Linked DNA regions of Homo sapiens: region 1 is linked to region 2. A link means that fine-mapping ties the variant in region 2 to the expression of a gene that starts in the linked region. Tissue or cell type: atrial appendage. Region 2 holds a variant in brackets; the other region holds the start of a gene. All regions are shown on one strand. Distances are from middle to middle.

Region 1 (17,734 bases), 24 kb before region 2:
TCTGCATTAGGGAGCACCCTAAGCCCAGTAACATTGTGGTTTCTTACAGACTTATAGAGGTACTGCCTTGATGGTCTTGGATAAGATCCAGAAAATTTCTTACCAGGCAGAGACTCTTGTTGTCTTCTTTTACTTTCTCCCAAACAAACAAATTCTCTCTCTCTCTCTCTCCCTCTCTCTTTTTCTGTGCTGGACATCCTGGAGCTTGGGGTGGGATGACACAAGTTCCTCTGTGGCTACACCACTGGGGCTGCACTAGGACAGACCTGAAATCAGCACAGTACTGCATCTTGCTCAAGGCCTGATGTAACCACTACCTGGCTACCAATGTGTGCTCAAGACCTTGGGGCTCTATAATCAGCTGGTAGTAAATCTAGCCACGTTTGTATCCTTCCCTTCAGGGTGGTGAGTTCCCCCAGGCCCTGGGTAGGTTGAGAGGTGTAGTCTGAGAGCCAGAGACTGGAGTCAGAATCCTTAGAAATCTACTTGGTGTGCAGTTTAGTTGGCACTCAAACCACTAGACACATTCTTCCCTCCCCTTTCCACAGGCAGGAGAGCCTCGCCCCCTGGCCTTCACCACCACAGGCCCAGGGGAGTACTTCCAGGCTACTGCCACGGTTCACTTAAGGCACAAAGGTTTTTCAATCAGCTTGTGGTGAATGCTGCCCGGTCTGGAACTCATTCTTTAGGGCAGTGGGCACCCTCTGCTCATGGCGGGTCCAGAAATGCCATAAAAGAGCCAAGGCCTGGATTCCAAGAGCCTGCTTGGTGCTTTGACCCTGTGGCCGAATTGGTACCTAAGGTGCAATACAAAGTCTCCTTTACTTTTCCACCTGCTTTTCTCAAGCAAAGAGTCTCTCACCACCGCCACCATAGCGGGTAATGTGCTGGATCTTACCTAAAGCCAGCACATCTCAGAGTCCTACCCAAGGTCCATGTCCATGGCGTACTATCTGGGCATCACTGATGGTTATTCGGGGCCCAAAGGTCAGCAAGTAATGAGTCCTGCTAGGACTGGTTCCTTCCCTTCAAAGCAGTAGATTCCCTTCTTGTCCAGCGTATGTCTAGAAATGTCCAGGAGCTAGGGCCTGGGATGTGAGTCTCATGACTCTGACCAGTCCCCTATCCTACTGTGGCTAAGCTGGTAACCAAGATGCAAAATAAAGTCCTCTTTACTCTTCCCTTTCCTCTCCTCAAGCAGAAGGAAGGAATCTCTTTTGGAGCCATGAGCTATGCTGCCTGGGGTTGGGGGAAGGGTGGTGCAAGCCATTTCCTTAGCTGCCCCAGCTGGTGTCTCCGTAGGTCATGTGCCTCCCCAAGTCCACTGGCTCTGAGCTCAGCTTAGCACTAGAAATCACCTAGGAGTTGCAGTCCTTGTGGCCTACACTGACTTTCAAGTTTATTTAGAGCCCCAAGGCATTTTAGCCCACAGTGATGAAGCTTGATGGAACTCAAGTTCCGACAACTGGGATGGGTGATTCCCCTCTGGCTAGGCCTGATCTAAATGCTCCCTCTGTGGGCAGGTGTCAACTGAGTTCAGCCCAGCTTTGCTTTATACTGTGACAGGGAAGCACTGAGTTCAATGCACAGTCTCACAATCTCTGTGCTCTCCCTCTCCCAAACACATAGCTTTTCTCTCCGCACAATGTGGCCACTGCTGGGAGGATGAAGGGTGGCATCAGCAATTCAAGACTGTCTTTCCTACCCTCTTCAATGCCTCTTTCAGCGATATGAAGTTAAAACTAGGAACTATGAGTGCTCATCTGATTTTTGGCTTTTATAAAGTTGCTTTTTGTGTATAGATAGTTGTTTAAATTTAGTGTTCTTGTAGAGAGGGACAATCAGTAGATCCTTCTATTCAGCCATCTTGCCCTGCCCTTCTTCTCTACCTGTGGTAGTCTTGACTATATCTATTTGTGTAGATTTTTTAGTGGTCCTCTGAGTATTGCATTATATATAAATAACTTATCATACTTTACTATTTTCATCATTTTACTTGTTTGAGTGAAGTGTAGAAATCTTATCTCCCTTATATCCCTTTACTCTCTCTCATTCACTTGTAATTGTCTTATGTATTTCCCTTACTTATATTTAGAACCACATCAGACAGTGATATAATTTTTGCTTCACCCATAAAAAATAATTTAGAAAACTCAATAGGAAGAGGAAAGTTTCTTGTATTTACCAATATTTTTCTTGACCATGTTCTTTATTCTAGATATTCTAAGTTTCTCCTGTTTATAATTTTCTATTTAGAGAACTTCCTTTAGTCATTCTTTTATTTTGAAAAGCGTTAGCTTTAGAATAACTTTAAGAGTTAGTAAATGTCAATAACCTTAAGCCTAGTGACCCTACTCTTGCTTATCCATTTCATCGTTGGCCTTGGCACCTTGCAGCCCTCCCTGTCCACCCAGTGGTTTTCATTACTCTCACAGAACACAAGAATTTCATTAGGCAATGTGACCTTGGAACTCTCAATGTGCCCATTAATCCACGTTGGCAGAAATGATATAACATAGTGATTAATAGCAAATTCTTCTAACTACTTCTTGTCATGGTACCTTTGCAAGTCCACCCTAGTTTATGAAGGTATAAGGAAGAGTTTAGTGGAAAACAGAGAGAGAGAGAGCTGAATCAGTATTACCCTTGTCTTCAACATCTTTATGAGTGCCTTTGGGTGTGCTGGGCCGAATTAGATGAATTTTATAATGAACAAAAGAAGAACGAAACCAAAAGGAAATAATATTTTTAAGAGAAAGGTCAAAGGCAAAGCAAAAAATTTCTGAGTCAAGCAATGAGAAGGGTTTTTTAAAAAAGAAAAAAAAACTTTGGGAGAAGTATAAGATGTAACATGGGTTGAAGGAAGTAAAGGCAGGAAAAATTAAGATCTATAAACTCTGAGAAGGTAGTTTGAGCAGAAGTAAAAAACATTAGTGACCAAAAGTTTGGAAATGATTCAAGAGTAGTTAAGTGCAGCCAAGTGCAAACAGAATAGTCAAATTTTCACTATCTTCAGACATGAAAATTTGGAGAATTGTTAGATAGCCACAAATGCAATATAGTGGGGGAAAAGACCACAGAGCATATTTGTCAAGATATAAGTCAACAGGACAGAGAATAGAGTCCATCATAGCACCCTCTTTAGGAAAAATTGTTGCTAATTAATTTATATTTGAATATAATTTGAAAATACTTTGGTAGATGGAATTTGTTATTCTCTGTTGACTCTTACTTATAGGAAATTCTTTTTGTACAAACCCTTTTATGCTATAGTTCAAAAATATTGATCTATTCAATACACATTTACTGAGCCCACTGGTGCTGTGGGCACTAGAAATACAACAGGTAAGGCTTCTGTCTAACAGTGGTCTTCAATAGGAATACAGAATGAGAAGCTGAAGTCACGTGGCCAGAGCTGGAAGCCTAATTCCATTGTTTACTAGCTGTGTAAAATTCACTTTGATATCCCCACCTCTAAACTGAGAATAATAGTTCCTCACTTGTTTACCTTGAACATGCTCCTTGTTTTGAGAATCAAATGAGATGATATATATGTGTGATAGGCTCTGTAAATTCATAAAATACTATATAATCTGAGTAACTTTTGCATTAGCCTTGTTTAAATCCTTCTTTATATGCCTAAAACTTTTTATCCTAAAACCTTAGCCCAGGTCCTTGCACATAGTAAGTGTGGGCAGCAATTATTGGATATTCCAGCGAATGAAATGAAAACATATTAATATTTTTACTCTCACGGCTCTTATGTGCTACTAAGATGACAAGAGACAATAAGCATAATAAATTCTTTAATGATATAGTATACTAGAAGGTGATAAATGCTGTGGAAAAGAAAATCAAAGTAGGATAAGAGGAACTGAGAGTCCTGAGGGTACAAGATCCAACTTCTAATTGAGAAGAGATTTTTAGGAGGTGAGAGTGTCCTCCATGTCAGTATTTTGGGGAGGATAATTTTGGACAGGGGGAACAACTAGTACAAACACCCTGAGGTGGAGTGCTGCCTCTCTTGTCTGAGTAATATCCAAGAGGCCAGTGTGGCTGGAGTGGAGTTAGGCAAAGACAAAATAAATAAAAATGAGATCAGAGAGGTCACGGAGAGGGCACAGCATTGTAGGCCATGACTGAGTGAATTGGGGGCTACCACAGAAATGTGAAGAGAAGAGTGATGTGATGTGACTCACATTTCAAAAGAATCATCCAGGCCATGCTTTTGACAATGGACAAAGGCGGAAGAGGAGGAAAGGACAGAGGCAGAGAGACAATTAACAAGCTATTATAGAAAATCAGGTGGAGATGATAGTGGCTTGCATGATGGTGGTAGAGCTGGAGGTGCAGGGCAAAGGTCAGATTCTGAATATATTTTGAAAGTAAAGGCAACAAGATTTCCTGACAGATTGATTATGGTGTGTCAAAGAAAGAGAGGAATGCAGGATGATTCCAGTGTTTTTGTTGACAACTATAAGTCTGGAGCTGCCAACTGGATGCAGAAGTTCACTGGAGGGCCCAGCCTGGGGAAAGGATCAGGAGCAGGTTAGGCATGTTAAGCTTGAGATGTCTGTTAAACATCCAGATAGGAATGTCAAAGATGCACTTGTGTTTAAGAGTCAGGAATGCAAGAGGGAATTTTAGGCTAGAAACAAAAAGTTAGAAATTATTCGATACAGATGGTATTTAAAGCTGTGTGACTGACTGACATGACAGAAGTGGCGAGAATAGACTGAGAAGTCCAAGGAATGAGCCTTGGACCACTCCAGTGTTAGGTAAGTAGTTGAAAAAAAGAGAGAGAGAGAAGGCATCAAAGGAGACTGAGGAAGAGTGATCAGGAAAGCATAGGAAAATCCGAGAAACATATGGTGTCCTGGAATCTATATGAAAAAGATATATTCAGAAAGACAGAGTGATAAATCTGTCAAATTATTGAATTTGTCAGGTAAAATAAGAACAGAGAATTGATCTTTGGACTTAGCAAAGCAGAGATTATCAGTGACTTTTATAAAAATAGTTTCGGTAGTGTGGAAAGATCAAACTTCTGTTTAGAGTGGGTTTCAGAGAGAACAACAGGAATTGAAGAAAGTAATAAACTTTGCCAACCAGTTTAGCTCCAAAGGAAAAGAGGGAAATATGATGGTAGCTGGCAGGGGAAGTGTGGTCAAGAGAGGTTTTTTGTTTGTTTTTCAAGATGGAAGAAATAACAGTATGTATGTAAGCTCACAGGAGGGATCCAGCAGGCATGGGGAAATTGATGATATAGGACAGAAAGGGAAGAATGGCTCCTTGTGAAAGTGAAAGGGGATGGGATCTACAGGATGAACATGCAAACAAAGACTGGCTGCAAAGAGAGGCATGAATAGTTCATTTACAGAAACAGCAAAGGCAGAGTGTTGGTACAGATGCTGGTAAGTGGAAAAATATCATGGTAGGAGGTTATGGAGTTCCATTCTAAACACTTCAACTTCATCAGTGAAATAAGCACGGTAATTTAGCAGAATGTGAAGATGTAAAAGAACAGAATTTGAGAAAACAGACGATATGAAATAATTATTAGAAAAGCAGGTGAGTGAATGAACTAAGAAAACATCTTATGACTATTGGTCAGTAAACGTTGGGATACATAGTGAATTTTACAAAATCTTTGCCCTCATAAGTCTTGCATCCCACAGAGTGGGCAATAAATAATAAACATAATAAGTACATTATGTATACAGTATAGGGCCATGTAAGTTCATGGCGAGGCAAGCCCGATGACTTTGTATTTTTCTTCAGACATGTTCTGCTGCATGGTGTAGGTTCACAGTAGCTCAGTAACTTGAATTATCCAGGATTGTGGTTTTACTAAGCAAGCCTGATAAAGAGAGAGGGCTAGAGGGTTGTGGGTGTTTTCAGGCTGAGTTAAGAGAGAAGACATGAAGGAGGTGAGGAACAGTAAAAAGGTGGTAAGATCAGTGGACTGAAGGATGCATTAAAGAATGACTGTGTTTAACTCTCTGATACATCTGACGTATGTTCTCCATCTCCACTTCCCTGCTAGTCATAGCGGATAAGGATACTCCCTGGATTCGAATTCTAGTTCCATCAGTTATAAGATATTGATTCTGTTTTACTTTGTCTGTCTCATTCCAAAACACATGTCTCTAATTACCATAGTTTGATAATGAGTTTTGATATTTATTTAGTAAGGCAAACCCATAAATAACTGATAATTTTTCAAGATAAAAGTGAAATAAATTTTCAGGAAAAAAAAGCTGAGAAAATTTGTCACAAACTAAAGAAAACAAGAAAGAGACAGTAGATGAAAGAGTGCTCATTAGGTGAAAGGAAAATGATCCAAGAGGGTAGCTTTGAGATGTAGGAAGAAACAAAAAGCAAGAAAATGATAAATGTTTTGATAAAGCTAAATAAGTATCAACTCATAAAGAAATAATATTCCCAGAAGAGTCATGAATATACAGAGAAAATTAAAGTACATGACAATGGCAATGTAAAAGTTAGGGGTGAATAAAAAAGAGACTTAAGAGTTCTAAAATCATTGCATTGTCCTGGAAGAGGAAAAAGTACAATGATTAGTCAAAGATACATGTCATAATCCCTAGAAAGGAGATCATTATTAAATAGAAAATAAAAGAATACATCTTATAGAAAGGAAATCTAAATGATAATATTAAACAGATCTAAAATAAGGCAAAAGTGAGGATAAAAAAGAAAGATGGAACCAATGGGGCAAATAGAAAAAGTAAGATAGCGTGGTAGGGCATTAATTCCAGCCTTACATCAATGCATAAGTATCTCAATATTCTACTGTAAAGGGAAAGTAAAGATTTCTTACAGCCTGAGTGTAATGGAGAAATCTAGTTTATCATAGTGCTTTAAATATTGTAAGTCTTCAACTTCTAGTTGATGAATAAATGATGGAATTCTCAGTGATACTGCACTGTTATCAAATAAATATAAAAGGAGCTCCTGGAATTGGATGTAATACAGGTAAAGAAGTAAACACAGCCATATAGGCATGGCTTCTTGCAGGGACAACTTTGTGAATCGGCTCAGACAGACAGACAGGCAAATACACCTCATTGCCTCATACATGTTATTTGCTTTAGTTTTTGTTCTGAACCTTCCTACTCCTTCAAGTATCTGCATTTACTTTATCAAATTCTCTTTTATTAGAGACTGAAGAAACTGTCATCTCCTTATGTGCTAATGAGTTTAATAATGTCCTCCAGTCACCACAAGCCTTCTTTCAAACTACACAATTCCAACTGCTTCCGTCTCAGAGTATCTTGAAATAATGATCTGACCGCCTGTTAGACCAGTGAAGGGAAGGAATTTGGGTTGATTTAAGAAGAGAATCCTCATGGTCATGGTAGACTGATATGGAGAGAAAACATTTTGAGGAAAAATACTCAACTAAATTCATTTCTACTCCAGCATGCAGTTTCAAGTCAAGTTCCACCTTAGCTCCAGGTGGCAGGCAGAGCAGGATGCAGAGGCACAGCACAAGTAAGGGGTGAGTGCCGAAGCTGCTGGCTCCTGTTCCAGTCTTTCTTCCTTGGCCTCGCCTGAACTTTTACTATAATAATAGTCACCATTTATTAGGTGTCTCCTACGTGCAGGACACTTTACACACAGTATCCCTAATCCTAATAACACCCTTATTTTATAGATCCAATGACTGAGTCAAGAATTACATAACCTGGCCAGACAGCTGGTACATGGGAAAGGTGAGATTCACACCAGGGTCCACCCAGCATCTCTACTTATACCATGCTCTGCTTTAAGGTTCTCTGAGAACTCAGACAAGCCTTGGGCTAACAATTGTGTTAACAGGACATAGCAGGTGCAAGGACCCACTGGTCATCCTGCTACCTGATCAGAAGGAAGGAAAGTTGTATTTGTTGCTCACCTACTATGTTTTAGGCATAGTACTAGGTGCTTTTACCTAGTACTTAATTCCCTTATCCTCAACTCATTTATTCCTCGCAATAACCTGATAAGGGAGATGTTTTTATCCTCATTTTACATATAAGGAAACAGGCCTAGAGAAATGAGCACAGTGTCCAAAGTCACATAGTTAATAAGATGTGAAGCTCTGAGTTTGAAAGTCTCCGGTTTCAAAGCCATGAAACTTATGGCTCCCCGTTTTAGACACTTCCTTTTGGGAAGAGTGTGGAGGAATTAATCAGAAAGAAGAAAGTCATACTCAAATAGGTGGTAGGAGCAGAGACAATTCAATACAGACAGAAGTCTTAGATGAGAGCAGTGAGCCAGGGCACTGGACTGGGACTCAGGAGGCTTCCCCTAGACTCTGGTTCCACCGATGCAGCCTCAGGCAGGACTTCACCTCTCTGGGCATCCGTTTCTTCATATGTTAAACATACGGGGTTTTAATTAGATGATCGCTGAAGACCCCTCTAGCCCTAAAACTCTGTGTCTCTTAAGTGCTAAGAGGGCACCAACAGCGTTCCTCCTCCCCAAGGAGCATAATGTGATGGTTCCTGCCGGCCCTGGCTGACTCTCGCCGTCCTTGGAGATAATTGGGTTCAGTGCCACCTGGACCAGAACTGGGGATGCGGAAGCAAGAGGCGAGTCTATTGCTCTCTCTCGGTCCTGGGCCGCCCTGTGATTGTTGGGCGTCCGGAAACTGTCTCCCCTATGGGTTTAAAAACAAAACTGAGCGCCCATGGGGTGTGACAGTCATCTGCAGGGGCTTGGGTGGCCCATCAGGCGAGGCTTTCTCGGCACCCGAGGCTCCAGCCTGATCTCGGTCTTATCCTGCGACCGGGCTGGTTCTGGCGGGTCGCCAGGGTGGGCGGCGGCCCCAGCCGGGCGCCCCGGCGGCAAGAGCGGCAGGCTGCGCCCCTGGCCCGCGCCTAGCCTGGGGAGAGAGCTGGGCGGGCGGCGGGAGCTGCTCTCGCGGGCCGCGGCCCTCGCCCTGGCTGCAACGGTAGGCGTTTCCCGGGCCGGACGCGCGTGGGGGGCGGGGGCGGGGGCGGGGGCGAGGCCGCGGCGAGCAAAGTCCAGGCCCCTCTGCTGCAGCGCCCGCGCGTCCAGAGGCCCTGCCAGACACGCGCGAGGTTCGAGGTGAGAGAGGTCCGGGCGCGTCTGGCCTCGAAGGGAGACCCGGGACGTGGGGCGCGGGGCGGGAGTGGCCGGACCTCCACCCAGTGCCCCCGGGCCCCGCGACTCGTGCGCCGGGCCGCCGGAGAGGGTGTACTTGGTTCTGAGGCTGTGGTTTCTCCTCAGGCTGAGATGGATCTTGAGGCGGCAAAGAACGGAACAGCCTGGCGCCCCACGAGCGCGGAGGGCGACTTTGAACTGGGCATCAGCAGGTACATCCCCAGCAGCCACTGGCTTTTCCGTTACACGCCAATCAGCAGGACTAAGTTCACCCTTGGAAAGAAGTTGTAAAAATCGGTTGATGCCTTTGAAGACCTTTGTTTTGGAGGCTTCTTTGAAGGGTCTTGCATCCGGTTCTGACCTTGGAGCAAACGTGTTGTGTGGCCTCAAAGAATGTCACTGAGGCTCCTTTTGGAACAGATTCAGGAAGAAAAGGCTGTCTTGAAAAGTGCTCCCTTCCCTTTGTGCAGGGGGGATTCAATGAATATCTGCATTGTATAACATTCATTGTATTACGTAACTCTTGAAACTTTTACAAATGACTTTCATATACATCATCTGATTGTTCAGACTTAAAGGGTGTCAGACATCTGCTGTTGATGGCTGTGCTTTTTGAACAAGGGCAGTGAAGCAAAAACTCCCTCCCCTCCTGCCCATCCCCTGTTATGTCTCTTCCTCCTTGTCTTACCCCTCCCCCTCCTCTCATCGCCAGGCTTATTTGTATTTCTCCTTTCTGGGAGGATAGGTGGGGAGGGGGAACTTCTGTACATCCGAATCAGTTTTGTTCAAGTGGTAGGGGGAAGCAGCGCTTCCTTTGCCTTCATGTCTTTCTCGGTTCCCCTGGCCCTTGTTAAACTCACTTCACAGGCTTTATGAGCGGGGCAGAAGTTCCCAGTCAATGGCGTGTGTCTTTGTTTCCTCTTTCACTGTGGGAATAGTGAATCATTTTCGCCTTTAGCCTGAAATAGTTTATGAGGCTATTACGGTCTCTGAGTTCATACCAGGCTACCCAGAAAAAATTGACCTGTGTCAAGTGATCACCCAGAGGGACAAATTTATCAGTCTCTGTAGTTTGTCCTCAAGCTGCTAGGGGCTTGATTAGCTAACTGAAAACATGCCTACCTGATGCTTAAACTGAAGCATTATTTTAGCCTGTTAATGTGGTTGTGCAGTAACCTTGCTGTATTTCTTCTAAGCACCATTGTATTTTTTCATAGAAAATTTAGTTTTGCCATGTAGAATTGAAAAAGTGATAGATGGTGTTACTTCCAATGGAAGTACTTACACACGCAATAGAAAAATATGGTTTTCATCAGCTGGCTGTTTAGGCAGGGATTGACTGTGAGTCTATTAATAGATGGCATTTTCATGAAGAAGTCTATTTATGTATTGCACTGGCTTAACATTTGATGCGTGTGCAAAGGAGCTATTCCTACAAAAGGTGTAGTAACACTTCAGAACCCAGGAAAGTCCTCAGAGGGGAAGCCCACAGCTTCTGCTGGAAAGAAGAAAGCAGCTCAAAAGAGAAATACAGAAAGTTAACAATAAGTTAAGACCACATGATTATGAAATCAAATGTAGTGAAACTAATTTTTATAAAAGCAGACCAAAGATAATATATTTAAAGGAAGTTAAGCCTGCTTCAATCAAATTAGTTATATTCTTGTTCTAATTATGTTGCTATTGCCCATGGCACATTCTTTTGAACATATTTAGTGGCAGATGTTTGTCCAGTGATTTTAGTCAATACTTTACATAATTTGGAATCATCTTATGAGTAAAACTTTATCATTTACCTGGATAAATGCATCATATTTATGTAAAAATCATCATATATATATAAATCATCATACACACACACACACACACACTCCCTCATAGAGTTTATATTATAGTACGGAGGACAGACATAAATAATGTACATACTAAATAAGTAAACCACAGCCAATGTTAGAAGGTAATTAACGCCATGGAAAAAAGCATTAATCCAGGTTAAGGGGATCAGGAGTACAAAAGGGGAGTACTTTGTAATTTTAAGTAGGGTGGTTAGGGTAGATCTTATTTTAAAGGTAATATTTGAGCAAAGACTTGAAAGAAATGAGAGGAGACAGCTGTGTGGGTATCTAAGGGGAGAGCATTCCCGGAAAAGGTAACTGGCAATGCAAAGACCCTGAGTCAGGTACATGTTTGGTGAGTTCATGGAACAGCAGAGAGTCCAGGCTGGTTGGAGCAGAGTAAGCAGGTTTGGGAGTAGGGATGTGGTCAGAGAGGAAATAAGCAAACAGATCGTGTAGGACCTCAGAGGTTAATGCAAGGATTTTGGCTTTTATTGTAAGAAAAAGGAAAGCCATTGTAGGTTTTTGAGCAAAGAAGTAGTGTATGGCTTGGCATTTTGAAATAATTACTCTGACTGCTAGTTGAAGATAGACTGAAGCGGCATAGGTGGAAGTGGAGAGACTAGGCAGGAGGCTGCCCTACTGGTGACAGCAATGAAACTGGTGATAAGTGGTTAAATTCTAGATGTACTTTGAATGTATCACCAACAAGATTGCCTGACACCACTCTCCACAATCCTTCAGAAGAATAGACATTCCTAATTTTAAATCATGATTTTTTTTAATTTTAGAAAACAAATAACTTAATTGACTTAGCGACACTGTTAGCATACTTATCTTTCCTGTGTATGTGAGCTCTGTAAGGCAGGCGACCATTTCTTATGTATCCATGTATCTTTGTAGTACCTTCGACAGTTACTTTTGTGCTTGCTATGTTTGTTGAACTGAATAATTTTGACATTTTGTGAACATCACTCTTATATTTGAAAATATAATAGTTGAATATTGTAACTAAACATATTTATGTTCAATTGATTGTAAAACATTTTGTAACAGTTTTAAATTGAAGCAATTCTATTTTTTACAGCAAACAAAAAAGGAAAAAAACGAAGACAGTGAAAATGATTGGAGTATTAACATTGGTAAGCTGTGAAATGTTAAATGTGAATAATCCTACCTTTTATTCAAATTTGAGGTATTGAATCAATTACCTTTAAAGCAAATACTTTAAGATTGTCTAGCTAGGCGAGCTGACTCATACTTGTAATCCCAGCACTTTGGGAGACTGAGGTGGGAGGGTTGCTTGAGCACAAGAGTTTGAGACCAGCCTGGACAACATAGTGAGATCTCATCTCTACAAAATAATAAAAATAAAAATCTTAAAAAATAGCATATGTCATGGCATGAACCTGTAGTCCCAGCTACTTGGGAGGCTGAGGCAGGAGGGTCTTAGGAGTCTGAGGCTGCAGTGAGTTATGATCACACCACTGCACTCCAGCCTGGGTGGCAGAGCAAGACCCTGTCTCAAAAACAACGACAACAAAAAACTGTCTGCAGACAGCAATAAATTGTCCTTGCTGCACCTGTGCTGTATAAGTTTGGCTTATTATAGTCAATGACCCACATTCTTAAGATGGATGATTTTTTAAAAAGTAGAGACAGGCTGGCGATGACACCGGACAGAGCTAACTGGTGTGCAAGGAAAGTGAAAATGGGAATTGTGTTAGTAGCACAATGCAAACTCAACAATTTCAAGAAAATGCATTTCTGCATTTGCTTCACAGACCCCCACCCCAAATTTAGCTTAAAATAAGCTTGCATTTCAAGAAAGTAATTGTTAAGTACATAAATTTTAATTTAAGGAATCTACATTCACATTTGGTTTCCAAAAAATTGGCTAAATAGGGGGTAACTATTAGGAATTCTGATTATGCTTAAAACAGTTTTCGGTGCTTTTCTGTTGGTACAAGACAAGACAATATTTTTGGAAGAAGTCTCCTCATCTGGTTTTCATTTGAAATATGTCTTACAGAGGCAGCTCAAGAAAGCATTTGCCCATTTTTGGTAAATATGACGTGTTTCAAACTGTGACAGCCATTATTTGGTAGCAAAGAAGTTAGAATTAAGTGTCATGTCAGCTGAAATCCAACTTAGTAATTAAATGGATAAAAAGACACCAAAACATCCACACTCTCAAACACTGCTGCATACTTCTCATGTAACCAAAAGCCCCTATTCATTGTCTTCTCTCCTCTTTTTTTATTTGTTTAAAAAGCCTCAGTAAGGGCAATTTAAAAAAAAATTAGCACTTTGGAGAATAAATTGTTTATCAAATGAAAGCTGGTTTTATTTATTTTTTTAGAAGTTTTTTTTTCTTTATTTTTTTAAATTTGTTTAAATTATACTTTAAGTTCTAGGGTACATGTGCATAACGTGCAGGTTTGTTACATATGTATACATGTGCCATGTTGGTGTGCTGCACCCATTAACTTGTCATTTACATTAGGTATATCTCCTAATGCTATCCCTCCCCCATCCCCCCACCCCACAATAGGCCCCGGTGTGTGATGTTCCCCTTCCTGTGTCCAAGTGTTCTCATTGTTCAGTTCCCACCTGTGAGTGAGAACATGAGGTGTTTGGTTTTTTGTCCTTGCGATAGTTTGCTGAGGATGGTTTCCAGCTTCATCCATGTCCCTACAAAGGACATGAACTCATCATTTTTTATGGCTGCATAGTATTCCATGGTGTATATGTGCCACATTTTCTTAATCCAGTCTATCATTGTTGGACATTTGGGTTGGTTCCAAGTCTTTGCTATTGTGAATAGTGCTGCAATAAACATACTTGTGCATGTGTCTGTATAGCAGCATGATTTATATTCCTTTGGGTATATACCTAGTAATGGGATGGCTGGGTCAAATGATATTTCTAGTTCTAGATCCTTGAGGAATCACCACACTGTCTTCCACAATGGTTGAACTAGTTTACAGTCCCACCAATAGTGTAAAAGTGTTCCTATTTCTCCACATCCTCTCCAGCACCTGTTGTTTCCTGACTTTTTAATGATTGCCATTCTAACTGGTGTGAGATGGTATCTCATTGTGGTTTTGATTTGCATTTCTCTGATGGCCAGTGATCATGAGCATTTTTTCATGTGTCTATTGGCTGCATAAATGTCTTCTTTTGAGGAGTGTCTGTTCATATCCTTCACCCACTTGTTGGTGGGGTTGTTTTTTTCTTGTAAATTTGTTTGAGTTCTTTGTAGATTCTGGATACTAGCCCTTTGTCAGATGAGTAGATTGCAAAAATTTTCTCCCATTCTGTAGGTTGCCAGTTCACTCTAATGATAGTTTCTTTTGCTGTGCAGAAGCTCTTTAGTTTAATTAGATCCCATTTTTGTCAATTTTGGCTTTTGTTGCCTTTGCTTTTGGTGTTTTAGACATGAACTCCTTGACCATGCCTATGTCCTGAATGGTATTGCCTAGGTTTTCTTCTAGGGTTTTTATGGTTTTAGGTCTAACATGTAAGTCTTTAATCCATCTTGAATTAATGTTTGTATAAGGTGTAAGGAAGGGATCCAGTTTCAGCTTTCTACATATGGCTAGCCAGTTTTCCCAGCACCATTTGTTAAATAGGGAATCCTTTTCCCATTTCTTGTTTTTGTCAGGTTTGTCAAAGATCAGATAGTTGTAGATGTATGGTATTATTTCTGAGGGCTCTGTTCTGTTCCATTGGTCTATATCTCTGTTTTGGTACCAGTACCATGCTGTTTTGGTTACTGTAGCCTTGTAGTATAGTTTGAAGTCAGGTAGCATGATGCCTCCAGCTTTGTTCTTTTAGCTTAGGATTGACTTGCCAATGCAGGCTCTTTTTTGGTTCCATATTAACTTTAAAGTAGTTTTTTCCAATTCTATGAAGAAAGTCATTGGTAGCTTGATGGGGATGGCATTGAATCTATAAATTACCTTGGGCAGTATGGCCATTTTCACGATATTGATTCTTCCTATCCATGAGCATGGAATGTTCTTCCATTTGTTTGTGTCCTCTTTTATTTCGTTGAGCAGTGGTTTGTAGTTCTCCTTGAAGAGGTCCTTCACATCCCTTGTAAGTTGGATTCCTAGGTATTTTATTCTCTTTGAAGCAATTGTGAATGGGAGTTCACTCATGATTTGGCTCTCTGTCTGTTATTGATGTATAAGAATGCTTGTGATTTTTGCACATTGATTTTGTATCCTGAGACTTTGCTGAAGTTGCTTATCAGCTTAAGGAGGCTTTGGGCTGAGACAATGGGGTTTTCTAGATATACAGTCATGTCATCTGCAAACAGGGACAGTTTTACTTCCTCTTTTCCTAATTGAATACCCTTTCTTTCTTTCTTCTGCCTGATTGCCCTGGCCAGAACTTCCAACACTATGTTGAATAGGAGTGGTGAGAGAGGGCATCCTGTCTTGTGCCAATTTTCAAAGGGAATGCTTCCAGTTTTTCCCATTCAGTATGATATTGGCTATGGGTTTGTCATAAATAGCTCTTATTATGTTTAGATACCTCCCATCAATACCTAATTTATTGAGAGTTTTTAGCATGAATGGCTGTTGAATTTTGTCAAAGGCCTTTTCTGCATCTATTGAGATAATAATGTGGTTTTTTTCTTTGGTTCTGTTTATATGCTGTATTACGTTTATTGATTTGTGTATGTTGAACCAGCCTTGCATCCCAGGGGTGAAGCCCACTTGATCATGGTGGATAAGCTTTTTGATGTGCTGCTGGATTCGGTTTGCCAGTATTTTATTTTATTTTATTTTATTTTATTTTATTTTATTTATTTATTTTTTGAGACGGAGTTGCGCTGTTTCGCCCAGGCCGGACTGTAGTGGCGCTATCTGGGCTCACTGCAAGCTGCGCCTCCCGGGTTCACGCCATTCTCCTGCCTCAGCCTCTCGAGTAGCTGAGACTACAGGTCCCCACCACCACGCCTGGCTAGTTTTTGTATTTTTAGTAGAGACAGGGTTTCACCATGTTAGCCAGGATGGTCTTGATCTCTTGACCTTGTGATCCGCCCGCCTCAGCCTCCCAAAGTGCTGCGATTATAGGCGTGAGCCACCGCGCCCACGGTTTGCCAGTATTTTATTGAGGATTTTTGCATTGATGTTCGTCAGGGATATTGGTCTAAAATTCTCTTTTTTTGTTGTGACTCTGCCAGGCTTTGGTATCAGGATGATGCTGGCCTCATAAAATGAGTTAGGGAGGATTCCCTCTTTTTCTATTGATTGGAATAGTTTCAGAAGGAATGGTACCAGTTCCTCCTTGTACCTCTGGTAGAATTCGGCTGTGATTCTGTCTGGTCCTGGACTTTTTTTGGTTGGTAAGCTATTAATTTCAGAGCCCGTTATTGGTCTATTCAGAGATTCAACTTCTTCCTGGTTTAGTCTTGGGAGGGTGTATGTGTTGAGGAATTTATCCATTTCTTCTAGATTTTCTAGTTTATTTATGTAGGGGTGTTTACAGTATTCTCTGATGGTAGTTTGTATTTCTGTGATATCAGTGGTGATATCCCCTTTATCATTTTTTATTGCGTCTATTTGATTCTTCTCTCTTTTCTTCTTTATTGGTCTTGCTAGCAGTCAATCAATTTTGTTGATCTTTTCAAAAAACCAGCTCCTGGATTCATTGACTTTTTGAAGGGTTTTTTATGTCTCTATCTCCTTCAGTTCTGCTCTGATCTTAGTTATTTCTTGCCTTCTGCTAGCTTTTGAATGTGTTTGCTCATGCTTCTCTAGTTCTTTTAATTGTGATGTTAGGGTGTCAATTTTACACCTTTCCTGCTTTCTCTTGTGGGCATTTAGTGCTATTAATTTCCCTCTACCCACTGCTTTAAATGTGTCCCAGAGATTCTGGTATGTTGTGTCTTTGTTCTCATTGGTTTCAAAGAACATCTTTATTTCTGCCTTCATTTCGTTATGTGCCCAGTAGTCGTTCAGGAGCAGGTTGTTCAGTTTCCATGTAGTTGAGCGGTTTTGAGTGAGTTTCTTAATCCTGAGTTCTAGTTTGATTGCACTGTGGTCTGAGACACAGTTTGTTATAATTTCTGTTCTTTTACATTTGCTGAGGAGTGCTTTACTTCCAACTACGTGGTCAATTTTGGAGTAAGTGCAGTGTGGTGCTGAGAAGAATGTATATTCTGTTGATTTGGGGTGGAGAGTTCTGTAGATGTCTATTAGGTCCACTTGGTGCAGAGCTGAGTTCAATTCCTGGATATCCTTGTTAACTTCTGTCTCGTTGATCTGTCTAATGCTGATAGTGGGGTCTTAAAGTCTCCCATTATTATTGTGTGGGAGTCTCTTTGTAGGTATCTAAGGACTTGCTTTATGAATCTTGGTGCTCCTGTATTGGGTGAATATATATATTTAGGATAGTTAGTTCTTCTTGTTGAATTGATCCGTTTACCATTATGTAATGGCCTTCTTTGTCTCTTTTGATCTTTGTTGGTTTAAATTCTGTTTTATCAGAGACTAGGATTGCAATCCCTGCCTTTTTTTGTTTTCCATTTGCTTGGTAGATCTTCCTCCATCCCTTTCTTTTGAGCCTATGTGTGTCTCTGCACGTGAGATGGGTTTCCTGAATACAGCACACTGATGGGTCTTGACTCTTTATCCAGTTTGCCAGTCTGTGTCTTTTAATTGGAGCATTTAGCCCATTTAAATTTAAGGTTAATATAGTTATGTGTGGATTTGATCCTGTCATTATGATTTTAGCTGGTTATTTTGCTC
Region 2 (14,262 bases):
TTGAGGACATGACGCTAAATGAAATGAGCCACTCAAAAAAAGATAAATACTGTTCGATTCTACTTTTATGAGGTATCTAGAGTAAAATTCATAAGAACGCAAGTGGAATGGTGGTTAATAGGGGTTGTGGGGAGGAGCAGTGGGGAGCTGTTGTTTAATGGGTATAGAATTTCAATTTTGCAAGTTGAAAAAGTTCTGGAGGTTGGCTGGACAACAGTGTGAATATACTTAACAGTACTGAACTGTACACTTAAAAATAGTTAACATGGTAAACTTTATGTAAGGTATTTTATCACAATTAAAATTTTTAAAGTCAGATTAAAGCAATGCAATTCACTTATCACACATCATTTCTCTTTTGGACCAATTTTATTAGTTCTGTTTTTGTTTTTACTAATACCAGAATAATTCCCAACTTTCTTATTTGGAGCAGTTTGCTTTTTTTTTTTTTTTTAACTTGTGCCTAATTATGAAACTGAATGGCTTTAAGCTGGACATGGCAGAGAGGTGCCAAATTCAAGGTCTCTCTGGGGAATGGCACAAGCAAGTCACTTACAGAACTGTGGTTGACACAGAGATAAACTCGCGAGAGTTGCCAACTTTGTTTTGGTAGCCTCCGAATTATAAACACTCCTGTTATGATGCTTGGTACCCTGTAGCCATGTTTCTCATTAGGCTTACTGGATGCTATGGAGTATTTAGATGGAAAGTTCCTCAAATGTTATGAATTTCCAGCATCCACTCTTTGGTCGTTTGTAAAAATAATATTCTCATACCTCTTAGAAGACAATGAAATCTTTAAAGGATACTCACTCTAAATCCAGACTGCTTATTGATGTGTTGAGAGTTGTAGAGTTTAACAAAAATCATGGGGGTTGGGAACAGATAGAGTGAGGTACTTAGCTGAGGTTCCAGCTTATCTCTTAGAGATGTTTACTTAGTCTATTCTTTAGAATTGTTGGATGCTTGGACAACCAGACTTAATAGGAGCCAAATGAGAAAGGCATGTTAGAAGAAAAAAAGGTTCATATTACAAGAGGGTCTGACAATGACTTATTGTGAGCAAAGCTCGTCCTTGTCAACAGAATAAAGCCACTCCATGACAGGGTTGTTCCCTCACAATGAGTCAGTTGTGCAGAAAGTATGCACACAACATTCTGCATCCAAAACATTAAGGACGGAGTTGGAGAAAACAGTTTTTCTGCAGAGTGTCAAGGACTTGATATCTTTTATGCTGTCTCTGTGACTATAATAGTCTAGAAAATTCTGCGGGAAAATAGCTGCACCCTGATTGTCCTTGCATTGCCTCTTGTTTGAGGGGAAAAATGCCATTTTGAGCCCCCAAGATATCTTCATAACTGTCCATAGTGCCTAGGGTGCCTGAACAAACACCAGCTCTTTATTTTATAATGAATAGTTCTATGTGTTAAAAGAAGTCCTAGGCAACATTTAAAAATAACTAAAAGTACATAATTGGATTGTTTGTAACACAAAGAAAGGAGAGATGCTTGAGGTGATGGATACCTCTCTTTCTTCCCCTTTGAAAAAAAAAGAAGTCTTGGGCAGAATCCGGGAAGGCAGACATTGATTTACTTTGAGACTCAAAAGTGAAAATGAAGACTATGTTTCCCTATCTAATCCTTAATGTATACACTGCTTATTCAGACCCTTCACCCATAAGCTGTGTGACCATGAGCAAGTCTCTTAACCTCTATAATCCTTACTGTTCTCATCTTTGAGAGGTAAGCATCAATTTACTGATAGAATTAAGTGAGATGATTTGTGTAAAGTGTCTGGAACATAGTAAATGATCAATAAATATTGGGACAAACTAGCTATAAGAACTTGGAAATGAAACAACCCACTCTGTCTCTTCATCTGTAAAATGGATAGGTTATATAGGTACTCTCTAAAATGAACAGGCAGCTTCAGGAGTTCCCCAGTTCCTTACTACGGGAGGCATTCAGGTGGACTGGGGTGTAAGTTCTCCATCCTGGCATATTAGAATCAACCAGGGTACTTTTTCTTTTTTGAGACAGGGTCTTGCTCTGTTGCCCAGGCTAGAGTGCAGTGAAGTGATCATAGCTCACTCCAGCCTTGAGCTCCTGGGCTCAAGTAATCCTCCTGCTTCAGTCTCCTGTGTAGCTGGGACTACAGGCACCTGCCACCATGCCCGGCCAACTTTTTGTAAAGGTGGATTTCACCACGTTGCCCAGGCTGGTCTCAAACTCCTGGCCTCAAGTGATCCTCCCGCCTCAGCCTCCCAAAGTGCTGTAATTATAGGTGTGAGCCACCGGGCCTGGCGGGGGGCACTTTATAAAAATGTGATGCTCTGGACTCAACCAGAGATTCTGGCTGCATTGGGCTTGAGTGGAGCCTGAACATCTGTAATTCTTAAGCTCCCCATGTAATTCTAATGCACAGACAGCGTTAAGTACCACCAAGCCAAATGACCATGTAGATATCGTTTATGAGACTGAAGCAGAATAGGTAGCATCTGACAAGACCAGGAGTAGGCTCTTTTCAGATCTAGCAGGCCATGACTTTTCAGGCAACACACCAACATATGTTTAGTTCACCTTTGTCCCAGGCAGCAGAAACTCTGAGTTTCCCCGGGGACTCTGGAGCTCCTCAGGTTACTAACCCAGCACTAGATTTCCATTCTTGAGACTCTGAGAAAGGAGCGGGTCCAATCTGGAACGCTCATAGATTCTTTCCTAGGAGGGAGAGTCAATTTGAGTTGGTATCTGTGTTAGTCCATTTTGTGTTGCTAGGAAGGAATACCTGAGACTGGGTAATTTATGAAGAAAATATGTTTATTTGGCTCATGGTTCAGCAGGCTGTAAAAGTATGGTACCCACATCTGTTTGGGGCTTCTGGCAAAGCCTCAGGAAGCTTTTACTCAGTGAGGGAAGGTGAATGGGGAGCAGATGTGTCACATGGAGAGAGAGGGAGCAGGAGGGAGAGGCCAGGCTCTCTTTAACAACCAGCTGTCACATGAACTGAGTGAGAACTCGCTCATTATCTCAGGGAGGGCACCAAGCCATTCATGTGGGATCTGTCCCCTTGACCCAAACACCTCCCATCAGGCCCCACCTCCAACACTGAGGATCACATTTCAACGTGAGATTTGGAGGGAACAAATATCCAAACCATATCAGTATCCTTATTGAGAGAATTTAAAAGTTTGAGGTAGGTGTTGAAAGAGAGGAAAAACTTATTTAAGATTTCACCCAATTTTTCAGTTCAGGGAAATAAAAAAACCACAATGATTTTTACAAATGCCACAGCTTTAGAATAGCTTGCCTGCCTCTAGTTCCAAATACTCTTCCAATTTGCCCTATTTAAAACTTCAGGATGGAAATGAACACACAGAAAGGAACTGATAAGATGAAAAGTAAAATAGGGTATGAATCTTCAAGGTTCTGATAGCTTATAAAGAGCTAGATTAATAATCGGAAATTTCACTGTGAACATCAGTAGAAATTATAATCCTGGGGGAAAGATGATGCTGCAGTTGGGGCCAGATGCCTGGTAATTGATCCTGACAGTAGTTTGAGTTTTAAATAAGTTTCAACCTTATCTTTCTTTGGAAAAAGATAAGGAGGATACACAGCACCACGAAAACACGAAAACACGACCCCTGGGCTATTTACACATGGCAAAGGAACAAAGAGACCAATTTCTCTCCTAGGACCATGGAAAATGAGAAATATGTACCCTGATGTGTTTTCTCAACAATGCTGTGGTGATATTTTATCCTATTATTTTGTGAATGCAGTAGATGTAGGCTGTTTCTTATTTTTTCATTTGTCTTTTCTAAAAAATAAAAATAAGTCATTGTCACATGAATAAATCAGTATAGTATAGTGTTACGAGCATAGGCCAAATTGCCTGGGCTGACTTTCAGCTCTGCCACTTACTAGCTGTATGACATTGAGTAAGTTACTTTATTTATCTGTGCCTCCATTTCCTATTCTATAAAATGGGGTTTGTGAAATAGTCTCACCTCATAAGATAATTAAATGAATTAACACACCTAAAGTATTCAGAGCAGTGCCTGGTATTTAATAAATGCTCAATAAACATTAGCTATTATTAAAACATGGAAATCAGGAAAGATACATTGACATTTTATCAAATTAGCTCAAATTAATAGACAATAGATTTCTTTCCAATTAATACTGCTTCAAAAAATACTAGAATACAGCAGTGCTGGTAAACAAGAGGTGGAATGCAGGATGTTCACTAATTGCCAGTGATCACTGACATGCCTTTGAGCAACTAAGTTATCTTCCCTGTCTAGTTTTTCCTCCTTTGCGATGGATGTAACTTAGCCTTTCCCTTACTTATGTCATATGAGACATGTAAAGAAAAAACACACAGATATAAAAATAAAATTTATTGAAGTTCTATAAAGTGCTTTGAGCCACCAAAAAAAAAAAATGCCTCTTAAATCCTGTGTTTTCTATTTTAAATATTTCTTATTCCCTCCTCTGTCTTCTGTGTGTTTTGTGGCTTCCTTGTCTCTTCAGTGGCTCCTCTGTGCCTCCTTAGAAGGCTGCTTTGCTAAAGGCTGAGACCGCCAGGATGGGGGAAAGACCTGGGAGGGCTTATCTTCCCCTTTCTTGGCCCTTAATGTCCAGTACCTAAACCCTTGGGCTCTTTACTTGAGTAAAGTGAAAAGAATGCACTTAAGTGTGCAAAGAAAAGTGTTTTTTAAAGAGAAACTTAACAATAGCATCTTCTAGCTTTCATACATTTAAATTATTAACAGATTTTTAAAAACCTGGCAATGCCTATTAATAGTTTGATCTTTTAACATGTTTTATTTTATTTTTTAATTTAGTGAACTTTTCCTTGTCGCTGCTAAATCCAGGCAAAATTCTGGAAGAAGAAATGACTAGGTAACTCATATATATGGTCTACTTTTTTAAAGTTTCATTTGAAGATAATTTCCAATTACAGAGTTATAAGAATATACAAATAACGTGTACTCTTTACCCAGATTCACCTATTATTATCATTTTTGCTCCCAAATCCCAATTTAAAGTAAGATGCACACATCATGGCCCTTTACTGCAGTATGACTCCTAAGAATAAGGATATTTTCTTACATAATCACAGTACAGCTATTAGCTTCAGTAAATTTCAGTACTTTTATCTAATATAACATCTATATTCCAATTTTGTCATTTGATCCAATAATGTCATTTATGGCATTTTCTCCTCCTTCTAGTTTCTCAATAGAAATCTCTAAAGCCTGTAAGCATGATGTTTGTATGTCTGCATAGCAGTGTTGCTGATTGTAACGAGTGCTGTCTGTATGCTAAAAGGCCTGAAAGGTGTCTATCTGGAAGCAGTTTATAAAATTAGATAATAAAAATTTGAAAGTATTGATATGTACTTATTATTTTTTAAAATACTAACTTTCTACTAATTTGGTAAAACATTCCAAATTCGTTTGAATTCATGACATTTTATCATATCTTTTTTTAAAATATTTCAAATTCTGACAAATAGGAACAAAGTTTTTTGGTTCTTTTTATAAAGAATGTGGAAAAATCAATATGGAAAGGGCGATTTCACATGTTCAATCTGCTTATTACTATATTTGCAATATGTAAATAGTAGTGAACTTTTCAGTACAATAAGATATACAAGTCTAGAATATAATTATTAAAGAGGAGTTAAATTGTATCCACAAGTTATCAATATCAGTTAAAAACAAATCATTAACTTTTTTGCAGTTAACAACAAAAATTTATCCATTTTCTTTGGCTAACAGTTCAAGTAAATAGATTTGCCATCATGGAGCTCATCACTTTATAATTTAAAAAAAGAAAAATGTAATGTCTGTTTGTTATAATGTCCTATACAGTTTTTGTTTTAAGTTTAGTAAATTGATTAATTTCCAGTTCTGAAAATTTCTCCTGAAAGAGATGAATAAAGGATGGTAGGGTGGGGGTGGTGGCTCATGCTATAATCCCAGCACTTTGGGAGGCGGAGGTGAGCAGATCACTTGAGGTCAGGAGTTCGAGACCAGCCTGGCCAACATGGTGAAACCCCATCTCCACTAAAAATACAAAAATTAGCCAGGTATGGTGGTGCATGCCTGTAATCCCAGCTACTCGGGAGGCTGAGGCAGGAGAATCACTTGAATCCAGGAGGCGGAGGTTGCAGTGAGCTGAGATGGTGCCACTGCACTCCAGCCTGGGTGACAGAGTGAGACTCAGTTTCAGAAAAGAAAAGAAAAGAAAAAAGAAAAGAGAAGGTATTTAATAGAGCCTTTCTCTTTTTTTTCAGATATGCATATTACTACTCAGGATTGGGTGCTGGAGTTCTTGTTGCTGCCTATATACAAGTTTCATTTTGGACTTTGGCAGCTGGTCGACAGATCAGGAAAATTAGGCAGAAGTTTTTTCATGCTATTCTACGACAGGAAATAGGATGGTTTGACATCAACGACACCACTGAACTCAATACGCGGCTAACAGAGTAGGTACATTGTTAATGTCACACTTTCATATAGAAATTAATTACTGTGTGAAAATATGTCAAGGAAAGATTTTAAATGAAAAATGTTACTAGATTGAGCATCTGATCTATATTAGAAATCGATCATCTGGCAGCCATGTCTAGCAGCATCTATAGCCTATGCCATTGCATGTTGGCTTTCCCCCAAGGTGCATAGTAGGTTTATTTGAGGACTGAATTCACATCTTATACCTGTTTATTTCTCATGGAACTTTCTACTGCAGGACGTGACAGGTGCTAGACTGTCAGTAAAGATGGTTGAATCAATGAATAGATGATTGAATTAATTTACAAAGAGACTTGCTTTAGTAATTGTCAACTCTTCACTTATTCAACAAATATTTGAGGGTGTTTCATGTGCGAAGTACCATTCTGTGTGTTCGTAATATATCAGTGAACAAAGCACAGATCTCTGTCCTTTTGGTGCTTACATTCCAGTAGAGGGAGATAGATGATAAACTTTCCTGACTGGGAGTCCTGGCAAAGGCATCCTGAGCAAATAAGTCAAAAAAAAAAAAAAAAAAAAGGGAAAAGCAAGACATTTAGGGCCTTGTAAACCTCCACAAAGACTTCAAGACTTCAGCTTTCACCCAGTGAAATGGCAGCCGCTGGAAGTTTCTGAGCTGAGGAGTAGCATGGTCAGACTTGCATTTTCAAAGCATCCCACTGGCTGCTGTGTTGAGAATAGACTTGGTTGGGAATAGGGACAAGAGTAGAAGCAAAGATCTCTTCCCTATTACTTCCCTATAAGAAGAAATGCAGTAATACTTCCCTACTACTGTTGCTTATTATTGTTGCAATGTTCTTCTTAATTCTTGCTTTTAAACAGATACATTTTTATGCTCAAAATGTTAATGCTTCTCTCATAGGATTGACTCATTTAATAGTATCAACTTAATGATACTAACTTATTAGAAGCATTGATCAATCCTGAATTTCTTCCTTTGTGCGGTGTTTAGGTGGGGAAGATGTTATTCAAGAGGCTAAGACTCTGAAAGAGGCTTGCAGTCAGTGAACAAATTTTACTTGTCTATGTGTTTGTTGGATGTCTACTTCATCTTTCTAACTGAAACCTCCTGCCTGTAACCACTTAGGTGTGATCTTTTTTAGTGACATCTCCAAAATCAGTGAAGGAATTGGTGACAAGGTTGGAATGTTCTTTCAAGCAGTAGCCACGTTTTTTGCAGGATTCATAGTGGGATTCATCAGAGGATGGAAGCTCACCCTTGTGATAATGGCCATCAGCCCTATTCTAGGACTCTCTGCAGCCGTTTGGGCAAAGGTATGTGAAAGCTGGGCCTTTTTATGTGTGTTAACCCCTGCACACAGTAATCTTTAATATGCAGAAGTCTCGTACTTGTACCTGTTCAGGTCTACATTAAATGTCAGTTGAAACTACATCCAGTAACATGGTGTTAATATGATGCTTTCATAAGGAAATTAATTTTTAACATAATTCAAAATGTCACAGGCTGGGTGTGGTGACTCATTCCTGTATCCCAGCACTTTGGGAGGCCAAGGTACATAAATCACTTGAGGTCAGGAGTTCCAGACCAGCCTGGACAACATGGCAAAACTCTGTCTCTACTAAAAATATGAAAAACTAGCCTTGCGTGGTGGTGCATGACTGTAATCCCAGCTACTTGGGAGGCTGAGACAGGAGAATCGCTGAACTCAGGAGGTGGAGGTCGCAGTGAGCCCAGATCATGCCACTTCACTCCAGCTTGGGTGACAGAGTAAGACTTCATCTCAAAAAAAAAAAAAATTCACAGTTCTTACTTCGATTACCCTTAGTTAAGGAAGTGCAACTTTAAAATATAACATTTCCCTCAAATTATTGCATGAACATAAAAATTTTAAATAGAGTTTGTATTTGTTCTATTTGTTTTAATCATTACCTGTGATGGTTAAGTGGCACTCTGCCAGTTTTGCCTGGCAATAAAATACACAAAATGTATTCTACTTTAGCCAACACTTCAGAGTTGAGAAATTTTACTGGCAATTTTTGCTCATCCTGACGTTGATGATTTACACAGTGAACTACCTGTATCTCTTTTGTTTTGATTCTTCCTTTGCTTTTCTCCTGAAACATCTTGTTTGGCTATCTTATTATTCAGCAGAATGCCCATGAGGAGGTCTGGAAGTATTGTTTTTATAGTAATTAAAAATTGTGACACAAGTCCAAAGTGGGTGGATCACGAGGTCAGGAGATTGAGACCATCCTGGCTAACACAGTGAAACCCTGTCTCTACTAAAAATACAAATAATTAGCCAGGCGTGGTGGTGTGCACTTGTAGTCCCAGCTACTCGGGAGGCTGAGGCAGAAGAATCACTTGAAACTGGGAGGCAGAGGTTACAGTGAGCCGAGATCGTGCCACTGCACTCCAGTCTGGGCAACAGAGTGAGACCCCGTCTCAAAAAAAAAAAAAAAAAAAATTGTGACACAATAAAGTTAAGAATGGTAAATTCTTTCAAAGCAGTAAAGTTTTATTTTATTTTACCTTACAACTAACAAAGAAAAACAGTAGATGTGGAACTTGACAGTGTTCCCAAGAGTGCTATTTAGAGAATTATGTGTGGATTTTCTTTTTTCCTGAGTACTCTTGGGGAGCCTATCACCAGGGTGGGTCAGATATAGCCTTTGAGGGATGTGGACGCAGCCATTGGATCCAGAACACTGGCATTTGCTACATGACTTTAATATTTGTTAAAGGAGAGGGTTTGGGAAGAAAAAGTAGGTTAAAGGGTTGACCAGAGTGCCTTTAAACTTTTCTCCCTATACAAAAGTGATCACTGTTTCTTTTCTGTCCAGATACTCTCGGCATTTAGTGACAAAGAACTAGCTGCTTATGCAAAAGCAGGCGCCGTGGCAGAAGAGGCTCTGGGGGCCATCAGGACTGTGATAGCTTTCGGGGGCCAGAACAAAGAGCTGGAAAGGTCAGGAAGGTTCTTTAGCCACTGGTTTAAGGAATGTGTTTTTACATTTTGTTGCTTCTTCTTTGTGGTATGTGTTTTTTACCTTCCCTTTCCTAATATTAACCCTTCTCGCATAAATTATAAGCACCCTTTACTGATGGCTATAGTTGAATGTCAGACTCTAAAGCAAGATTCTTAATCATTTATGTTCCATGGACTCTTTTGGCTATGTGATAATACAAATGGACTCCCTTGTTTTTAAATGCATAAACCAAAATATGCTAGCCCTTTGGGAAGCCAAGGCAGGAGGGTAGCTGGAATCCAGGAGCTCAAGACCAGCCTGGGCAATGTAGTAAGACCCTGGCTCTACAATTTTTTTTTTTTTTAATAAGCTGAGTGTGGTGGTGTGCACCTGTGGTCCCAGCTACTCAGGAGGCTGAGGCAGGAGAATCCCTTGAGCCCAGAATGTCAAGGGTGCAGTGAGCTGAACTCCAGCCTGGATGATAGAGTGAGCCTCTATCACAAAAAAAGAGTAAAAATTTTTTAAAAACCAAAAAATAAATAAATAAAAGCCCCAAAAAACAAAATAAGTAGGGTTACAAAGGAAAATAATTATATTAAAAATACTTATCAAAATATTTTTTATTTTATTTTACTCCTTAATGACTATGAACTGGAATATAGAAGAGAAAAACCTGAGAAAACATCGACTTCCTAGTTATAGCCCAGAATTCTTTGTAGGGCCTTGTGGGTCCTCCATAACAATGAGGCAGGGCTTCCCACCCAGGCCTCTGGCATTCAACTTTAATGATCCAGGATAAGCCTGGAAAATTGACCAGTATCTGGAGGCATGTTGCAAACTCTTCTCTGAAAAAATTATCAAGGCATGATTGACATATGAAAAGCTGTGTATACATCTTTAGTGTGTATATCTCAATGAGTTTGGGGATAAGAATACACCTATGAAAAAGGCTATTCTGCTCTACTTAAATGAAAATAATTACTTAGGGTTTTATTTAAATAACAATATCCCCTACTGTAGTTGAAGTATGATTCCATATAAAGTATTTTCTTTGGCTATTCTATGGGACTCTTGATACTCACAACTCTTGGATATAAAAATTCTCTGGAAATTCTCTAGCATTAAAAACAAAGTTTCCCTTATTCCCCCCATTTAATTTTCTACTTTTCTATTCCTTAATCCCTCTTCAAAGCCAACATGTTTCTGATCCTCTAACCTCTTCCTTTTTTCTCTCTCACTGCTGCTTCCTGTACATAATAGTCCACACAGACCACACTAACCCTCAGTTGGACCTCAGGATGTC[A/G]GTGTAATCTGTGCCGCTCCATTAGCCCCGGTAAGCGAGCCACCTAAGCAAAGGTAATTACAGTGTGTCCGCTGCTGTCACTGGAGCTGTGTGTCACACTGGGCAGATGCAAGTCTTCCTGCCACGCCTTGAGGCTCAGCCACACAGGAGAAATCACAGCGCTAGCTGTGGCCTGCTGGCTACCCCCAGAGATGCAGCTGTGCTCTATGAATGCAGCCCCCAACCAGAGGAAAGCACCCTGAAGACCTGGGTGCTTTACGCAATAAAAAAGACAAACCTTCTGATGGCAGAATATGTTTTTTAAAAGACTAATGAATTCTCATGTTTTATTTGGTTCAACACTAAAACTGGTGTTGCTGTGTTTTGTTTTTTGTTTTTTTTTGTCACAAAGAAAAATATCCTAGTTTGTGTGATATTTTCCCCTCGAAGTGTCATTGCATACCCATTGGATTTTTCTTTAAATTTCAGGGAGCCCAAATTAAATTTTACATACCCTCTGGGTCTAGTATGAAAAAGTAGATTTGATTTAACTTGATGAAAAAAAATTGTAATTTAACAGAATCATTCTAGATATTTTAAACTTTATATCAAATGCCAGCAGCCAGTAATAATGCATTTGAATTATGATTCAAAGATATGATAGTAATAGAATGAGCAAAACTCAGGAAGAGATAAAAGTTGAACACAATGATACTAATATAATAGTAAGAGAAATGATCAGGCTTGCTAACTATGAACCAGCTACTGTACTACTTTCTACAATTATCTACCAACCTCACAATTATCTTGCAAATTAGGCATTATTAAATCCATTTTTCATATATGAAACTAAAGTCTGGAAAAATTGAATAAGAACTCATATTCCATAAGTAGTGACTACCTTATAACCTGTATCTAGCTTGACAGATGAAGGTCAGCCTGATTTTTAAAAAAGTCAAAGAGAGAAGCCTATGTTTATGTACAACAACATGTAAAATTTTCATCCCTCACCCAGTGGACAATAGAGGGACGATTTTCTTTTCTCCAGAGAAGAGACATTGACCAGAGTTAAGAATCTAACTGTTTATGAGTTCCAGTGACATTTACAATCAATTCTGGTTTGGCTTGGTTTCTCTCATTCCCTCTTAACCCTGACTTGTGATATTGCCGTGAAGGTGATGGAGAAGCTCTTCCATATCCCAGGGTGAGCCCTCAATTCTGGAATAACCACAGGAATGTTGGTTGGCTTGGAATGGATGAAGGGAAATGGAACCGGGCCAGTAAAGAGAAGGCTTGGATCTGTTCTAGGCCTGGCTGATCCTGAATTAGTTCAATTCCCAAAGATCTGGGTCTCACCATGGGTTCATTACCTTGACTGACTTTGTTACTTAAACCTCCAACTATATAGGAGCCGAGTGTGACTCGGACTATGGATTGTTATTCTTAATTATAATGTTTTCCCTCTCATTTTTCTGGTAGGTATCAGAAACATTTAGAAAATGCCAAAGAGATTGGAATTAAAAAAGCTATTTCAGCAAACATTTCCATGGGTATTGCCTTCCTGTTAATATATGCATCATATGCACTGGCCTTCTGGTATGGATCCACTCTAGTCATATCAAAAGAATATACTATTGGAAATGCAATGACAGTAAGTAGTTCTCCTAACATTTATGAAGAATATGAAAATCTTATTTCTCCATCTACCTTCTCTTTTCTTTGATATCGCTCCTTTTTGAAAGATGAACATGATTATAGGTTTTTGTTTTTGGTGAATCTTTCCACTGTCCAGTGGGCAGAGCTGACTTTCTAGTATATACAAGTCATAATTATGAGTGTGGATAAGAAAATAGCATGTGGTTAGACCATTTGTGAAACATATACAATGTATAAAAGGAAATAAAAATGGGATGAATTTAGGAATAAACAAATATGGATGGGAGCCATCCTCCCTCTGCCGTTGAGTTTTATTGTATAAGAAAGTAAGCATCATTATTACAGAATAGGTCATTGCACAAGAAAATGTTACATTTATATCACTTAAAACAATCAGCTCTCTGAAATACAAGAAGAGATGTTATGTTAGTTTGTTTTTATTTATCAAAATGAAGATAGCTTCATTTTATGATTGTTAAAATAATATATACTAATTTTACAAAGGATTAGGATACAGAATTTTTAAAATTAAAATTACTTACAATCTAATAATTTATATTCTCTTGATGATAATTTTTGGCATATATCTTCCAGGTCATTTTCTATATATATACACATTGTTTTCTTTCAAAACTGGGATCATACTATGTATATCTTTTTGTAACCACATTTATGAACTACCAATATTTTGTGACCATCTTTTCATGTCAGAGACTCAGAACAATATGTAACTATTTAAATAGAAATCTTTTAACATCTGTACTTCCCTATCTTGCTAAAATGAGGATACTGAGCATAATTTGGCCCTTTGATGATGACTTGGGGTCATTATGAAAGTGAATATTTTCAGAATGCTTTATGCAGTGGTATCTTCAGACTTCATTGAGAGGTTGTGGGTGTTCGACTTGGTGAGCCCTCATTAATGCTGAGTCTAATTTTTCTCACTTCCATCTTCTCTCTGGCAGTCGGTTTGGAAGCTTGCTACCCTTTCTTCACTTCCTCATTTACTATTGATGTTTTATGAAGAAGGGAGGTTGAATCCTGACAACCGTTCACCTTTGGTGATGAGTTTGTCCTCTATGGCCTTAATTTCCTCATTTGTAGTATGTGGATAATGACACCTATCCGGTAGGGCTGAGATTGCTATCCCCAGAGGGAGCCCAAGCAAAGCCCTCTGCATAGAGGGCAGGGACTCTATTGCATTAACCTTATGGCAACTATTTTGGTCAACATTATTTTTCTTTCTTACTGGTCCTTATCTGTATTGCAGATGGGGGATAGATATTTAACTGATATTTGAGTTATGGGTAACATGAAGTGTTGCTGTGTTTTGAGAAAAGCCAAATTATATGTAGAAGTTTTACCATGCCCTGAGAGAAAAAAATAATTTATCTTCACTTATGTTTTTCTCAGTTAAGTTATGCTAATAATCTGGATTCCTGAAGCTGTATTCTGAGCTTCTTTATATCAATTCATTTTCCTAGTGAAAAAATACTGTGAAGGGAAATGTGTTAAGTGTTGTATGCTACAGTACAGAATAACTGTGTAAAGGAATTGCTAACCAGTGCACACTGGAGTGATTTTATGTTTTATGATGTGCAAACTGTTACTTTTTATGTTAAAAATCTTTAAAAATATATGTGACATGGTGCTTTTTAGGAGCATTACATAGGGCCAAAATCTGCCATGTTTTATATTGAACCGTCTATGTAATTCCATGCATAGTTAGAGAAAATCATATAGGATGGAATAATAATACTGACTGAAAATGTTTCTTTCTGGTGGCATTTGTGAGTGAGTCAATGAAATAGGTTTGAAAAATCTTTTTAACTCTGTATGTATTCAGGAG

The links. PIP is the estimated chance that this variant, and not a neighbour inherited with it, causes the effect.
Region 1: it holds the start of ABCB4, and the variant in region 2 is fine-mapped to the expression of ABCB4 in atrial appendage (GTEx, PIP 0.97).

The regions. Positions count from the first base shown.
Region 1 is chr7:87,466,996-87,484,729 of GRCh38, reverse strand. ABCB4 (ATP binding cassette subfamily B member 4) reads left to right here and starts at 9,050. Exons shown (of 28, transcript NM_000443.4): 1 at 9,050-9,096; 2 at 9,259-9,344; 3 at 12,055-12,109. The coding sequence starts at 9,265. RefSeq lists silencers at 8,674-8,923, 8,974-9,173, 9,184-9,323 and an enhancer at 9,794-9,863.
Region 2 is chr7:87,445,180-87,459,441 of GRCh38, reverse strand. ABCB4 (ATP binding cassette subfamily B member 4) reads left to right here. Exons shown (of 28, transcript NM_000443.4): 5 at 4,850-4,907; 6 at 6,307-6,498; 7 at 7,648-7,819; 8 at 9,350-9,474; 9 at 12,237-12,408. Among named protein-coding and RNA genes, the nearest start is that of ABCB4, 23 kb to the left of the region's middle. The variant A/G (reference allele first, on the strand shown) is at 10,779.